Homo sapiens: one gene and its partner. The protein of the gene in region 2 interacts with the protein of the main gene of each other region in a pairwise test. Each region holds a gene or a part of one and is shown on either strand. Other genes may lie near its edges.

Evidence for each region.
Region 1: the proteins of TEX264 (region 2) and ADGRG3 interact in binary tests that used the Homo sapiens proteins (3 or more experiments, as listed by UniProt).

What each region holds. Positions count from the first base shown.
Region 1 is NC_000016.10:57,678,306-57,685,328, forward strand, and holds part of ADGRG3 (adhesion G protein-coupled receptor G3 isoform 1 precursor), read left to right. Parts: coding exon 1-11; intron 12-871; coding exon 872-1,006; intron 1,007-1,510; coding exon 1,511-1,550; intron 1,551-1,959; coding exon 1,960-2,060; intron 2,061-2,199; coding exon 2,200-2,312; intron 2,313-4,179; coding exon of another isoform or gene 4,180-4,320; intron 4,321-5,626; coding exon 5,627-5,907; intron 5,908-6,084; coding exon 6,085-6,178; intron 6,179-7,023. UniProt on the Homo sapiens protein: Adhesion G-protein coupled receptor (aGPCR) for glucocorticoid hormones such as cortisol, cortisone and 11-deoxycortisol.
Region 2 is NC_000003.12:51,681,244-51,688,266, forward strand, and holds part of TEX264 (testis-expressed protein 264), read left to right. Parts: intron 1-98; exon of another isoform or gene 99-142; coding exon of another isoform or gene 143-187; intron 188-3,169; coding exon 3,170-3,391; intron 3,392-3,571; coding exon of another isoform or gene 3,572-3,631; exon of another isoform or gene 3,632-7,023. UniProt on the Homo sapiens protein: Major reticulophagy (also called ER-phagy) receptor that acts independently of other candidate reticulophagy receptors to remodel subdomains of the endoplasmic reticulum into autophagosomes upon nutrient stress, which then fuse with lysosomes for endoplasmic reticulum turnover.

The DNA of each region.
Region 1 (7,023 bases), on a different chromosome or scaffold from region 2:
CTCTCTTCAAGGTGAGGACTCAGGGAAGCTCCAAGGTTAAGTGCTAGGTCCTCTGGGGGCTCCATGCCACAGTTTGCTGTCACTGGAGCCTGCCGAGGGATCCAATGGGGACAGAGCAGGCAGTGAGCCTCTTAGTGTTTCTAATGCAGCCCGTGGCCATCTCAGACACCTGTCACTAGAGTCTATGGTCTTCAGACTCACACTGGTCACACGCTCTCAGATGTTTGACCCCCACACATGAGTGCCCTTTGGCTTGTCTATGTGTCCTGTGGGTGCTCGTGTGCTCTGTGTGTCCTCGTGCATGCACAAACATGCACATCCTTTTCTATTCTTGTGCACGCACAAGCCCATGTACTCAGCTGTGATCATATCCACACGAGCAAGTGTACCCATGCCCTTGCACATGTGTATACCAGGTATGTGCACCCAGAGGTGTGCATCCACTCCTGTGCAGACGTGTGTACCCCTGAGGGCTAGTGTGCTCCCCCCACCAGCCTCCTTTCTACCGAATGCACACTCACGCTAAGACCCTCAGGGGCACGCTATCCTCCCCGCTGACTTCCATTTCTTGGCTGATCTTGGCCCCATGCCCCCTCTAGTTAAGAGGGCAGAGGAGCTCTGGAGGCCAGCAATGGAGAGCTGTCAGGTGCACAGCTTTGCAGCCAGTTGACCTGGCCCAGCCCAAGCAGGAGACCACTGGGAGCAGCAGGGAGGAGGCTGCCTGTGACTCCTTGGCTCCCTGGTCCCCTGGTCTCGAACTCTGCCCTCCAAGCAAAGGCCATGGGTTCCTGGAGGCTCCTAGGAACCCCAGCGTTGGTGGGTTGGGATGGCCCCTTCTGCAGCCTGGCCTCCCCGATCTCCCCTTTCACAGGGCCCCCGGCTCGGCCTGGGAGATGGCAGCGGCGTGTTGAACAATCGCCTGGTGGGTTTGAGTGTGGGACAAATGCATGTCACCAAGCTGGCTGAGCCTCTGGAGATCGTCTTCTCTCACCAGCGACCGCCCCCTGTGAGTCCCCTGCTCAGGCCTGGCAGCCACTGCAGGGCAGACAGGCGAGTGGGCACACCTGGGCCCATGGGCCCTGCATGGGACACTACATATCTGTCCCCTACCCTTCCACAGTCGCCCAGGAGGAGCCATTAGGGCCATACACATAATTGGATCCAAGGCCACACACCATAGAGGTGCACATGAGGACCTGGCAAGCCCACCTGCATACACATGGCATTCCACATCCTCCACACCCATGCTCCCCTGACACGCACACATGCATGCAGACAGGCAAACCCTCCTGCCCACAGCCCCACACCACAGTCGCACGCTTCACACGCCGGCCCAGGGCTCATCAAATGGTGCACTTAATTTTTCTGTGTGGCCCATGGGTGTGAACCTTGCTTTCTACCTAATGCACACTCACACTAGGACTCGGGGGAGCACACCGTCCTCCCGCTTCCCCTGCCCTCCCCCAAACTTCCCTTTTCCTCTCTCCTGACTTCCACTCTTCGGTTTCAGAACATGACCCTCACCTGTGTATTCTGGGATGTGACTAAAGGTAGGGCCCGGAGGACCTTCTCTGGGGTAAGACAGGAAGGGAGGGTATGGGCTGCATTGTGGGGCGGGGCTAGCTCCACTGGCTGAGTCCCTCCCCTGCCTTCCTCTCCCCTCCCCTCCCCTCCTCTTTGCTCCCTGCATCCCCTCCCTTCCCCTCCCCTCCCCCCCCTCCTCACCTCCCCTTCCTCCTCCCCTCCCTTCCCTATATTCCCTTCCCCTCTGTTCCCCTCCCCTCCCCTCCCCTCTCCTCTCCTCCCCTCCCTATATTCCCTTCCCCTCTGTTCACCTCCTCTCCCCTCCCTTACCCTCCCCTCCCTATATTCCCTTCCCCTCTGTTCCCCTCCTCTCCCCTCCCTTGCCCTCCCCTCCCTATATTCCCTTTCCCTCTGTTCCCCTGGCCTCCTCTCCAGGGACCACTGGAGACTGGTCTTCTGAGGGCTGCTCCACGGAGGTCAGACCTGAGGGGACCGTGTGCTGCTGTGACCACCTGACCTTTTTCGCCCTGCTCCTGGTAACAGCCCCCTCCACTCTGATCCCAGCCATCCCAGGGGCTTCCAGCTCCTGCCCTGGGGAGGGGGCTGCCTGGTGGTCTTTGGGTATATGGGCCTGGCCTCCAACTGACGTGGTCCCGGTTCTGGGGTCACCCACAGAGACCCACCTTGGACCAGTCCACGGTGCATATCCTCACACGCATCTCCCAGGCGGGCTGTGGGGTCTCCATGATCTTCCTGGCCTTCACCATTATTCTTTATGCCTTTCTGAGGTGAGTGATCCCCACCTCCCCACCATGTCTCCCTCCCGCCCTCAAGGGAGGCAGCAGGGCAGGGTGGGAAGCATTCAGGTTGTGCAGCCTCTGACCGTTGTCCCCTCCACACGTTAGTGTCCTCATCCCAAAATGGGGTTGGGGGTTGAAATGTGTCAGAGCTATTTCAGGAGCAAGTGGCAGAAACTCAACTCAAATTGGCTTAAACATAATAGGGAATGTGTGGTTCACGTAACTGAGAATAGCAAATAGCAAATAGGGTTCATGTAATTGAAAAACCCAAGGTGCATGGACTTCTGGCAGGGTTCGATCCAGGGGGTCAAAAGAGGTCCCCAGAACTTGGTCTCCCTCTACCTCTCACAGCTTTGCTCGCCCCTTGACAGTCACATCGGGCAGCTTTACCACCCTCAGGGGCCCTGGCTGCCTCAGGATTGCATCATAGCTCCTTAGCTGCTTAGGCAGAAATAAAAGAGATCTCCTCTTTCCAAGTATTCTAAGATGAATCCCAGGATTGAGAAGGATTTTATTTTGAGATAAAACAGAAAGATGCAAAAATAGTGCAGAGTCCTGTGGTTCGTTCTCCCAGATTCCCCCTGTGGATACATCATAGACAACTGTAGTTCAATATCAAAACCAGCAGCTGGTGGTACAGTACTGTTGACTAGAATACAGACTTTGCTCAGTTTTCACCATTTTTTATGTACATTCATGTGTGTGTCTGTGTGTGTGTCTGTGTGTGTGTGTGTGTGTGTGTGTGTGCGCGCGTGCGTGCGCGCAGGACATATCATTTGATTGGCCCAGTCCAAAATGAAAATAAAGAAGGCTGGGCGTAGTAGCTCATGCCTGTAATCCCAGCACTTTGGGAGGCCGAGGCAGGTAGATCACCTGAGGTCAGGAGTTCGAGACCAGTCTGGCCAACATGGTGAAAGCCCATCTCTACTAAAAATACAAAACAAAAGTTAGCTGGGCGTGGTGGTGCGCGCCTGTAATCCCAGCTACTCAGGAGGTTGAGGCAGGAGAATCGCTTGAACCAAGGAGGCGGAGGTTGCAGTGAGCCGAGATCACACCATTGCACTCCAGCCTGGACAACAAGTGCAAAACTCCGTCTCAAAAAAAAAAAAAAAAAAAAGAGAGAGAGAGAGAGAAAGAAAATATATGGCCCCTTATTCAAAAAATTTTAAGAATGTCAAGATGGCGACAGTAGAACATTAAGTCCTTCTGCGTATGGGGTCCTACAGAGGTCACATGCTCATGAAACTGGCCCTGTGTGAGCATGTGTGTGCATGTCTGTGTATATCAGCCTATGCAGTTTTATCCCGTGTATACACCAGAGTTGAGTCTTACTGGTCTAACTTGGACCATGTGCCCATGCCTGTCTGGGTCACTGTGGTCAAGAGCTGGAATACACAGATTGGCCGGCCAGGCCATGTGTCTGCTCTTGGGTTTGAGCTAACAAAGAACCCCTGGCCCCTGACTTATGAGAGTGGGGACGGGCGTTCCTTAGGGAAACCTGGGGCTGTGTCCAGAAGAGGTGGGAGTGAGTGCAGGACAGGCAGAAACAGCAGAGAGCACTGCAGCCTGGGCCCAGGCCATGGCTGAGGGACCCACAGGATCTGCCAGCTTGAAGGAGCCTAGGGGAGCTGCCAGTGCTCCAGCTTGTCCTGTCCCCTGCCTCCTGGGGGTCCCTGGGGGTGGCCTAAAGCAGCCCTTGGGTCTCCTGCCCCCGCATCCAGGGCCGTCCCTCCGCCCTCTCCACGTGCCTCTGTGTCAGCATTTGGCCCTAGGCTGCAGCCCCAACTAGGCCCACCCAATCCATCACAGACCAACCCATGAGTGTAAATGGTGCCCCTCACCCCCACCCTCCAAGCCCTGGCCTAGGACATGGTCCCCATCCCCAACAAGCCGAGTGTGACTTGCCAGCTGGCCGCATTGCTGGACCCTGTGAGCGGGGCTTGGAGCGCCAGGAGAAATTACCACCAGCTCCCCAGGGTGGGGCCTGGCATCTCAGGTGAGGTGGACATGATCCCAGATGCTCCTCCAGGAAGCCCCCGGCTCCCCTCCCTCGGCTGAGAGCCCTTTTGGATCTGGTTTGCTAAGAATTCAGAGTGGGGGCTCCAGAGAGAGGGAGGTGAGCCTGGTGAGTCACTGGACAGGGAGTCTGGAGCCCAGGGTTGGAGCCCCTGCCCTGCTCTGTGACCCCATAAGGCTCCCGTCCCTCTCTAAGCCTCACTCTCCTACTGCATTTTCGGCTTCATGCATCCACCCATCTGTCCATCCACTTCACCAATGGATCCCTGGTCCCACCACTGTTAGGCCTGAAGTTCACAGCATGGGAAAGACCCGAGGAGAGAGAGGATGGGGAGTTACACTATGCTGCTGGGAAATGTCCAGTTCAGCTCAGGCTAAGGGGCATTCAGAGATGGCCTCCCCAGAAGGAAACCTCCAAGGGGCATTTGAAAGGCAGAAGAAGAGGAGTCAGGCAAAGAAGGTGGGAGGAGCTGGGGAGCAGGGAAAGGCATTGAGAACAGTGGGAAGAGCTGACCTCTGCGAAATGAGATCAGCCTCACCTTGGTATAGTTTGGGTCATTCCAGGTGTTTTTTTTCTTCTCTTCCCAAGGCTGCCTAATCTCTAGCCAGTGTCTGGCTTTTGACTGATAGGTGTGTTGCTCAGTTACTTTGGGCCCGTGTACGTTTGTGTGTCACCTCCATCCCATAATTTTAAGTACATGCATGATATGCAGCCCATATGCATGAACCTTAAGTAGCTAATTATCATACAGGGTTATGTGAAAGAAACTTTTTCTCTCTAATGTAAATGCCCATCTCTGAAGAGCTGCCCCTTACTGGTTTGGTCCGGATCTTGCCGGCCACGGGGTCCCTTTTTTATGTCACTTTTGTCTTGCCTGCTGAACCTCTGCTTTTCATCTCACTTCTTGCTCACCCGTCCCATTCACCGTGCTTCTATTCTCTGCTTTTACTTATTCTGCCCTTTATCCAACTTTTAATTCCCTTTGCTATTCTCCTGCCTCATTTTCTGGCCTCATTTTCCCTATTATCCTGCCTCACATTGATCAAGGGATGAGGCTGGCAGGATCCGGAACCCACAGGGCCCCGTGGGCCATGAGAGGCTCCTGGACTTGAACCTCAGGACACTCCCACTCTGGCTGCCGGCAGGGATGGAAGCTGGATGAGCAGGCAGGAGCTGGCAGTGGGGGTGGAGAGCCATAGGCTATTGGGGTGGACAGGCTTGGGTGCCTCATGGGAGCTCCCCATGGGAGCTGTGGCCCCTTGGGGCCTCTTATTTCTCACCCCAGGCTTTCCCGGGAGAGGTTCAAGTCAGAAGATGCCCCAAAGATCCACGTGGCCCTGGGTGGCAGCCTGTTCCTCCTGAATCTGGCCTTCTTGGTCAATGTGGGGAGTGGCTCAAAGGGGTCTGATGCTGCCTGCTGGGCCCGGGGGGCTGTCTTCCACTACTTCCTGCTCTGTGCCTTCACCTGGATGGGCCTTGAAGCCTTCCACCTCTACCTGCTCGCTGTCAGGGTCTTCAACACCTACTTCGGGCACTACTTCCTGAAGCTGAGCCTGGTGGGCTGGGGTAGGTGCTGCCTGGATGGACAGAATAAACGGCCGGCCCTGAGGGTGCAGAGGGAAATAGCCTTGGGGAGAGAGAGGAGGGGTTCCCAGAGCTGGAGGGATGGCCATCTGGAGGGGACGTGGAGGAGGAAGTGCCAGTAAGCCCCAGTGGTGTCATGCCATTTCCCCTTGTGCCCAGGCCTGCCCGCCCTGATGGTCATCGGCACTGGGAGTGCCAACAGCTACGGCCTCTACACCATCCGTGATAGGGAGAACCGCACCTCTCTGGAGCTGTGAGTGGCGGCTGTGGGAGCAGGGGTGATGCCAGCTCCCCGGCTACACATATTGGGGCTGGAGAGAGGTGGGGAGAGGAGGGATTTCTAGGAAAATCTAGACCAAATATGTCAAGACCAGAAGAATCCTCAGATCCAGCTAGCTCATGGCACAGAGAAGTAAACTGAAGCCTAGAGAGAGAGAGGGGAAGTGAAATGAGAGAGGGGGCCTGAGAAAGGAGAGGGAGAACTGGACCAGGAGGCAGGATGCCTTACTTGAGCCTGGGCCAACACGAGCCCACATGGCACCTTGAGGCAAAGTAAAGAAGGTCACCCCGTCCGCATGCGGGGTGCGCAGCCTGGAGAGTGGAGGGTGTGTTGGATTTCAGCCCCCACCTGCTGCCCAGCCAGGTGTCCTTGTTCAGGCCACCACCTGCCCAGTGATTCACAGTAGCCCTGGGTCTAGTCTGGGCTCTGCCCTGCCTGCTATGTGTGTGATCTTGGCAGGCCCGATCTCTCCCAGGGCCTCAGTCTCCTCATCTGCACCATGGGGGAACTGATCAACATGCTCTTTGAGGCCCTTTGCCCCTGCAGTGCAGAGGGCAGTGGAGCTGAGTTCAGTTTCTAGACTCACACCTTGGGATCCATGGGGCACCCACCACTGGGCCCATGGCTCTGTGCTAAGAGGAGCTGGTGAGGCCTTGGACCTGTCCCCAGGCCTCAAAAGCAGGGGCCCCAGGAGCTGGAGGGGTCACAAAGGTGCAGGCAGTGGGCCAGGTGGGGACTGCAGCGGACTGGCAGTCACAAGCCCATCTAATTAGCGGTCAGTTACTATCCTTCAGGAGGGCATCCACAGAGCTGCCAGG
Region 2 (7,023 bases):
GGTGGAGGGAGAGGAAGTTTGTTATGGTGCAGGGCTTGCTTGTGTGTGCATGCATGTACTGTCACTGAGCATGCCTCAAGAACTTTCTGTGTGCGCAGGATCCTGGACCTTTTTGCCTAGAGGCCTGGAGTGATGGAGAGAGATGGGGAGGCCATCAGTTACAGTGCAGCACAACACCTGCTCCCTGGTGGGTACTTGGGATCAGAGAGGAGGGGCTGCTTGGTGGAGAGCAACAGAAGGCTTTGAAGGGGAAAGTTGAGCTGAGTCTTGCAGGATGGGCAGGAGTTTCCCAGTCAGAAGGGACTCTGGAATAGGGTGAAGAAGGACATTTCAGGCAGAGGAAGTAGCTTACGCAAAGGCAGGAAGCATGGGAGGATGTGGCATGTTTGGGGAGCTGCAAATAGTTTCATGTGGGTGTGTGTGGGGGTGTGGCGGGTGAGGAGGCTGGCAAGGCGGGCTGGGCCAGAGCCTGGATCTGTCCCTCCCTCTGCCATGCAGACACTCAGTTGGTGCCTGCCCACCTGGGCTCTGGCCCCTGCTGGGGCCTGAGGCTGCAGAAAGGGAGTGCAAGGTGAGTGTGTGGGCAAATTCATGCAGTATTATGTGGGCCACTCCAAAAGAGCCTTGCCTATTGGCTTGTGAATTTAGTTTCATCCTAGAGGTAAATTGGGAGCCATTGAGAGGTTCTGAGCAAGATGACCACATGTGTTCTGGTGTCTTTTGGCTACTGAAGAGGATGTTGAGCTGGGAGTCCCATAAGGCCTGCTGAAGCGTTCCCAGGAAAGACCCTGGAACTCAAACCCAGGCAAGCCAGCTGTAGAAAGGAAGAGAATAAGTGACCTTTCATCCGTTTCTCCATATGACTTATGTAGATGTTTCTTTTGCACAGCACAGGTTGGTAGGGTCAGGGACATGAAGATAGGCTTTGTGGCAGGCAGTGTCTCTTGGCTTGTCAGCAGGAGGCCTGCCAGATAACTTCCTGCCTATCTGGTCATTCTCAAGTCTTGGCGTGTGAGTAGGGCAGTTCCACCATCTAGAGACAAGAGATGGTATTGCAGTGATCTCCTGTGCCTCTGGGTGGGGTGGGAGGAGCTTCAGGCCAAAAGAAGTGACTGTGTGCAAGGTAGACTTATGGAGGGCAAGAAAGTTTACAGCAAAATACTGGGGGAGAAGAGAGTGCCACTGAGCCACGCTGAAAGGCTCTTCAAGAGGGTATTTGAACCGGAAGGACAGGCAGGGAGGAGCTGCATATTCAGAGGTTTGGGTGGTCGGGCATTCTAGGCCATGGACAGTTGTTTGGACTGTGTCATAGCTACTAATAACCACAATTATGGGGCATTTGCTGAATGCTGGACCCAGGCTAAGCTCTCGTGAAGTTTCTTGTTTAATATGGCAGTTCTGTAAGTAGATATTGAGGAACTGGGGCTCCCAGAACCCAAGGGACTTGTCTAGAATCACACGACTCAGATTCGCACCGTGGCCTGCCTCTCTCAAGCTGTGTTTCTGACCACTACACCCGGTTGCCTGCTACTAAAGCTCTGAGCCAGGTTTGGATGCCGTAGGCTTCAAGGGGGCTGCAAGGGGACCAGAGCTGCAGACAGTTGAGGGTGACCGTTAGGGTCTGCTTAGAAGTGAGAGCCTGGAATAGGTGCCCAAGTCCCAGGCAAACTGTGACTAAAAGGAAGGCCTGGGTTGGCCTGAGTAGAGGAGGCCATTCAGGGCTGAGAAACCCCCAGGGGATTTCAGAGAGGGCTTGGAAAGGGCTGTAATGGGAGGGAGAGGTGAGAACAGGTAATAATGACTTCACAGTGCTGGGAAGGAGGGCTGGGGAGAGGAGTAAGTGGAGGTAGAGGGAGAAGCCTGTTTAAACTTAGGGGTCATCCCTGTGAAGGTGAACTGCTGGCAAAAAAAATTTTTTTGCGGTGGGTAGGGAGAAAGGAGCCTTTAGAGTTGAGCAAAACCCAGGATTGAGGGTACAAGGTCTGTGCTGAATCTCTTGGATTCAAGATCATATGTCTCTGAGGGCCCAGTCTGAAGGCTGGTACAGACTTAGGCACCTGGAAAGCTGACGTGGGAAACAGGTAGCAGTAGGTGAGACAAAGTGAGGCCTCTTGATGCCAGGAGGAGAAATGAGTACTGGGCCTTGCAGCATTCATTCAGTCCTAGGAAGTGTTGGAGGCTCACATAGGAGCCTTACATGGCTGAGGTTTCTGGGAGCCAGAGGAGGGAAATTAGGTAGGGAGGCAAGCAGAGTGGGAAGTGCAGGCACTAGCAACCTACAGAGATTTGGAGGGGAACCAGTGGTCTTGGCTTTTAGCCAGGAAGGGACTTAGGAAGTGGGATAGGTCCCTGGATGGGCCATGGGTTGCAGAAGAAGTCTAGAGGCTCTGGTGATGGTAGCTGGCCCTGCCAGAGGGGTGGGGAGGATGATCTCTTCACAGAATTTCACCAGCAACCCAGATGTCAGTGATCCCAATCCTATGTCCTGACAGGTGCTTCCTGCAGCCCCTCCTCAGCCACTTGCCAGGTCCTGACCCTGCAAGCATGTGTGTAAACACACACACACGTGTTCTTGCTTTCCTAGGGCATGACCGTGGAGGGCTCTGAGCTCTTTATTACCACTCCTCAGTTTTGCTCCCTTGCCTGCCATAATTTCTCTGCCTGTAAAGCCTGCTCTTCTCCAGGAGATAGGAGGGAAATTAGCTAATAGGATTTTGCTGGACCCAGGCTGCAGGATCAGCCACTGTACAGTTCTGCTGGTGGCCCTGGGGCGTGGGGGCTGACAGAGGGTCTTATGGTGGGGTGGAAGGGCCCCCTCAGTGGAGCCATGTGGAGGGTGATGGTTCAGAGGTCCTCTCCGCCCTTCCCTCTCCTGGCCTCCAGAAGGGCAGAGACCAAGTCTAACCCCTCACTATGATCCCTGGGTTTCCACAGGGCATGGCATGTTTGTTGAAGGAATAGATGAGAGTCCTGTGGTACGATGCCACAGGCAGGGGCCATAGGTGGGTTCCAGTAAGAAAATAGCTAGCTGTGTCCTGGTATCTGGGGCTGCATGGCTTGTCAGAGCTGCTGGTTCTTTTAGGCCTGATCTGGCACAGTCCCAGGAGGAAGGAGGTCTGAGGGCCTCCTTCCTTTGGCCAACTCTCACACCCATGCTTTGCTTCCCCAGGTGCCCCCTGATAAGTGCCGATGTGCCGTGGGCAGCATCCTGAGTGAAGGTGAGGAATCGCCCTCCCCTGAGCTCATCGACCTCTACCAGAAATTTGGCTTCAAGGTGTTCTCCTTCCCGGCACCCAGCCATGTGGTGACAGCCACCTTCCCCTACACCACCATTCTGTCCATCTGGCTGGCTACCCGCCGTGTCCATCCTGCCTTGGACACCTACATCAAGGTGAGGCACAGGCCTGGGGTGTGTGTGTTGGGGACAGCCAGGCCCCTTGGGTGGAGCTGAGGAGGACTGCCTAGAATGGGAGGAAGAAGTGGTTTTGGGAGAGCAGCACCCTGGGGCCCTCATGGAACAGGTACCTGTGGAGCTAGGAAGATGGGCAGAGGTTGTTGGCATCTCTTTCAGATGCCCAAGATCTTTTGGAAGCCGGAGCATATCCCAAGAGCATGGAGAACTTGTTCATAAATCTGATCTGGTTAGTTTGGCTCTGGCTTTGACCAAAGACATCCATAGTGCTTATCCCACACTCCTGGCTCAGATGAATGGACAGGCCACTTTATTCTCATCCTGCTGGAGGCCTGCAAAGCAAGGACCTGAGGCTCCCAGTGTCTGGGCAGGCCCCAGGTAATCATGTATTGCCCGTGGCCCTGCCTGTGCATGGGCTTATACATCTGCTCCCAGAGGCCAGGGCTGGGACAGCAGTGGCAGGCTCTGTTTCCTTTACTTCCTGACTTGGTTACTGGCAATGCTGGCAGCCCAACCTTCCTGGAGGAAGGAGAGCCAGTCACCTGGTCATCTGACGGGTTTCTGTGTCTACAGAAATTTTTTTAAAACTTGCCCTGTTACACATCCCTCCTCCCCTAAACGTTTTGTAAACTTGGTTGCTAGGGAAATGACCCCAGTTTGGGCTTGGACGTGATTGTTCATTCATTTAACTTGTATTTATAGTCTGTGTGCCAGGTGCTATAATGGGCACAATGTGAATGAAACGTTGGTGCATGAAACAGCCATTCACAGTGAGGTGGTGAAGATAGGTAATAAATATCAGACAAAAATAGGACGTGTGCTAGAGAAGGAGAGGGTGAGAAAAGTCAGGGAACCAACTTGGACAGAATGGTCAGGGACAGCCTCTCAGAGGAGATAACCTCAAGGCAGAGTCCTAGAAGAGCCTTTAGAGAGGAGATAAGAACTTCTAGTCAGAGCTTTGGTCTAAATGCAGCAGGAAGTCACTGCAGTGTTCCAACCAGGAAAATAACACAGTTGGAGCCACGTCTGTACAAGATGAGCTGTCCCATCTCTGGGCAGGGTGGGACTGGACCACAGATCTGGGACCAGGTGGAGATGCTTAGGCCTGGGGCTAAGGAATTAGCCTAGGAGGCTGTCATGAATCCCATTGTGAGTGGTGGCAGCTTGGGCAGGCCCAGCGGCTATAGAGCTGTGGACAAGGATGGAGATTTACAATCACTTTTGGGATAGAACTGATAGACTTTGGGTGGATTCACTGTTGTGGAAGGAGAGGCAGTGAGGGAGTCACAGAGGGCTCTGCTCCCCTCTGGCCTGGGCAGGTGGGCAAGTATGTAGTGATGCTTTCACTGACATGTGGGGAACTGAGGGAGGCCCTGGTTTTGGGGGGAAGGTAGCTATTTGGGCTATGTCAGGGGAGCTGCCTGAGATACATCTAAGTTGGGGGGTGTGGAGTCAGCAATGGTATGTGTGGCCTGGAGTTGAGGAAAGGCTGGGCTGGTGGATATATTTGGGGACATCAGCCTGTTGGCAGTATTTGACCTGGGAGGCTGCCCTGTGCCTCCCTGCCTCTGTGGGACCAGGTAGGCAGTGGACAGCCTGTGGCAGCAAAGGCTGCGCAGAGGGCGTGGCCAGTGTGGCAGGGGTCAGGGAACAGGACGAGAGTCAGTGGGAGTGAGAGCCTGGTACACTTGGAGGATCCTTGCAACTTTGTTCACCAAAGCAGCTTGGGGAAAGGGACACAGCGTTGATGATGGAAATGGGAGTTCAGATGTCCCTGGAGTCTGGTGTTGGGGCTGAGGAATGAATAAATGAGGCCCTGGGTCACCAGCTGTGTCCTTGGCGGTCAAAGACAGGTTTGAAGAATCAGGAGTGAGAAGACCTGGAAAGGGGAGGGCTGTCACGGTGATAAGGCAAGGGCACAGGGAGAATAGAGGGGAGTTTCCTTTGTGAGCTGGAGGGTGGTGGCCAAAAGGGGTGTGGGGCAGGATGTGCTTGCCTGGCTGCGGTTGGACTGGAGGTGGGGGCGGGCTGGCTGGTGGTGTGGGCAGGAAGGAAGATACCAGTGCCCTAGGCCTGCTTAGTGTGCTGCCTCTGGGGAGTCCCGCCCCATTTCATTCAAGGAAGGCCTCTCCAGTCCTGTCGGTGCCATCCTCAACCTCATGGGCCCATCTGGAGGGGCACCCCTGGGAAAGAGACTTCTTGGGTTCCAGACCTCAGAACAGGACATGTGGCATGTGGTGTGGTGGTGAGCAACTCAGCCACCAAAGCCTTTTCCTGGCTTCAGGGGTTTATTTTTAGACACCTTTGTCCAAATTTCCCGGCCCCTGACAGCTTCACAAGTTGCCTGGTTTTGACGTCACCTCTTTGATGAAAGCCCTTCCTCCTTCCTCCCCGCTCCCATGGGAGCCTGTCAGCTGTGCTCCTGGAGTGGGGGTTGAGACAAGGAAGCCAGTGATATGGGGGAGAGCAAGGGGCTTCTCCCAGAGACAGGTGTGAGGCATGCTTGTGTGGGCTTGGCCATCAGCGGGGAGAGTAAGATAGAGGCCGGCTGCCCACAGAAGAGGCATGGCCGAAGGTCCTGGGCTTGTTTTGGCAGCAGGGTGTGGGGGTTGCCTCTGCCCCTGTGTTTAGCCTGACCTTGCGTCTTGGGGAACAAAGCCAGGGGAGAGATGAGGAAGGGGCTAGCTCTGTTTGCTGGTCACAGCCTGCAGTGGACAGGGGTGGCCCTGTGCCTCTCTCAGCCCAGGAGACAGCAAGGAGAGAGTATAAGGCTCCCTTCCATCCCTGCCTTCATCTCCCCTGCCCTGAGGTCAGAGAAAGGAGATTACTAATGAGACTAGTTGCGTCTCACTCTTCTAGCACCGACAGCTTTTAACTGTGTGTGCGTGCGCGTGTGTACACCCTTCTTTTTCTCTCTGGATCTGGGACTGCTGTGAAGGCTCTTCAAATGGAATGACAGCAGCCGTCAGCTTTCTGCTTTGGCAGGGGTGAGAGAGGCCAGGAGCCCTGCTGCCAGGAGTTGCGGGGGGAGGACTTGGCAGGCTCACCAGCCTCTCCAGAGGCTAGGTGAGGGGCAGGGGTGAATGGATCTTAGCTTCGGGTTTGGGAGGTGGAGAGCAGCTGCTGTCCCGGGAGTTGCAGATGTGCCTGAGCCTGGAACAGGATTGGTCTCATGGGACAGAGGGACCTGAAGTTCACGGCGAGAGGCCCAAGGAGAAGCACTTGTCAGGACTCTCGGGATTCTGGAAGGGATGGCTGATCTCAGCTTTCCTGGTTTGCATGGCAGCCTCTGGCTCTCTGGCTAGCCTTCCCCAGCTTGGCAGCCTGGCAAACTGCTATAGATGCTGGAACTCTGCCTTTCTCCATATAAACTGCTAAGGGCCCCCAGGCTGAACACTCATTCCCCTGGAATCCATGCGTACTGTGTGACCATCACTCCATATGGAAGATGCCTCAGCTTTGTCAGGCTGCTCCGCTGGAGTCCAAGGAGGTGGCCTCTAGTACAGGAGGAGACCACTCCCCAAGTCCCAGGAAAGGGGTATCTTCTGGAAGCTGCAGGATGGAACAGAGCTTGCTTGAAATTGCAAACCTGCAGAGGGGAGATGGGGCCC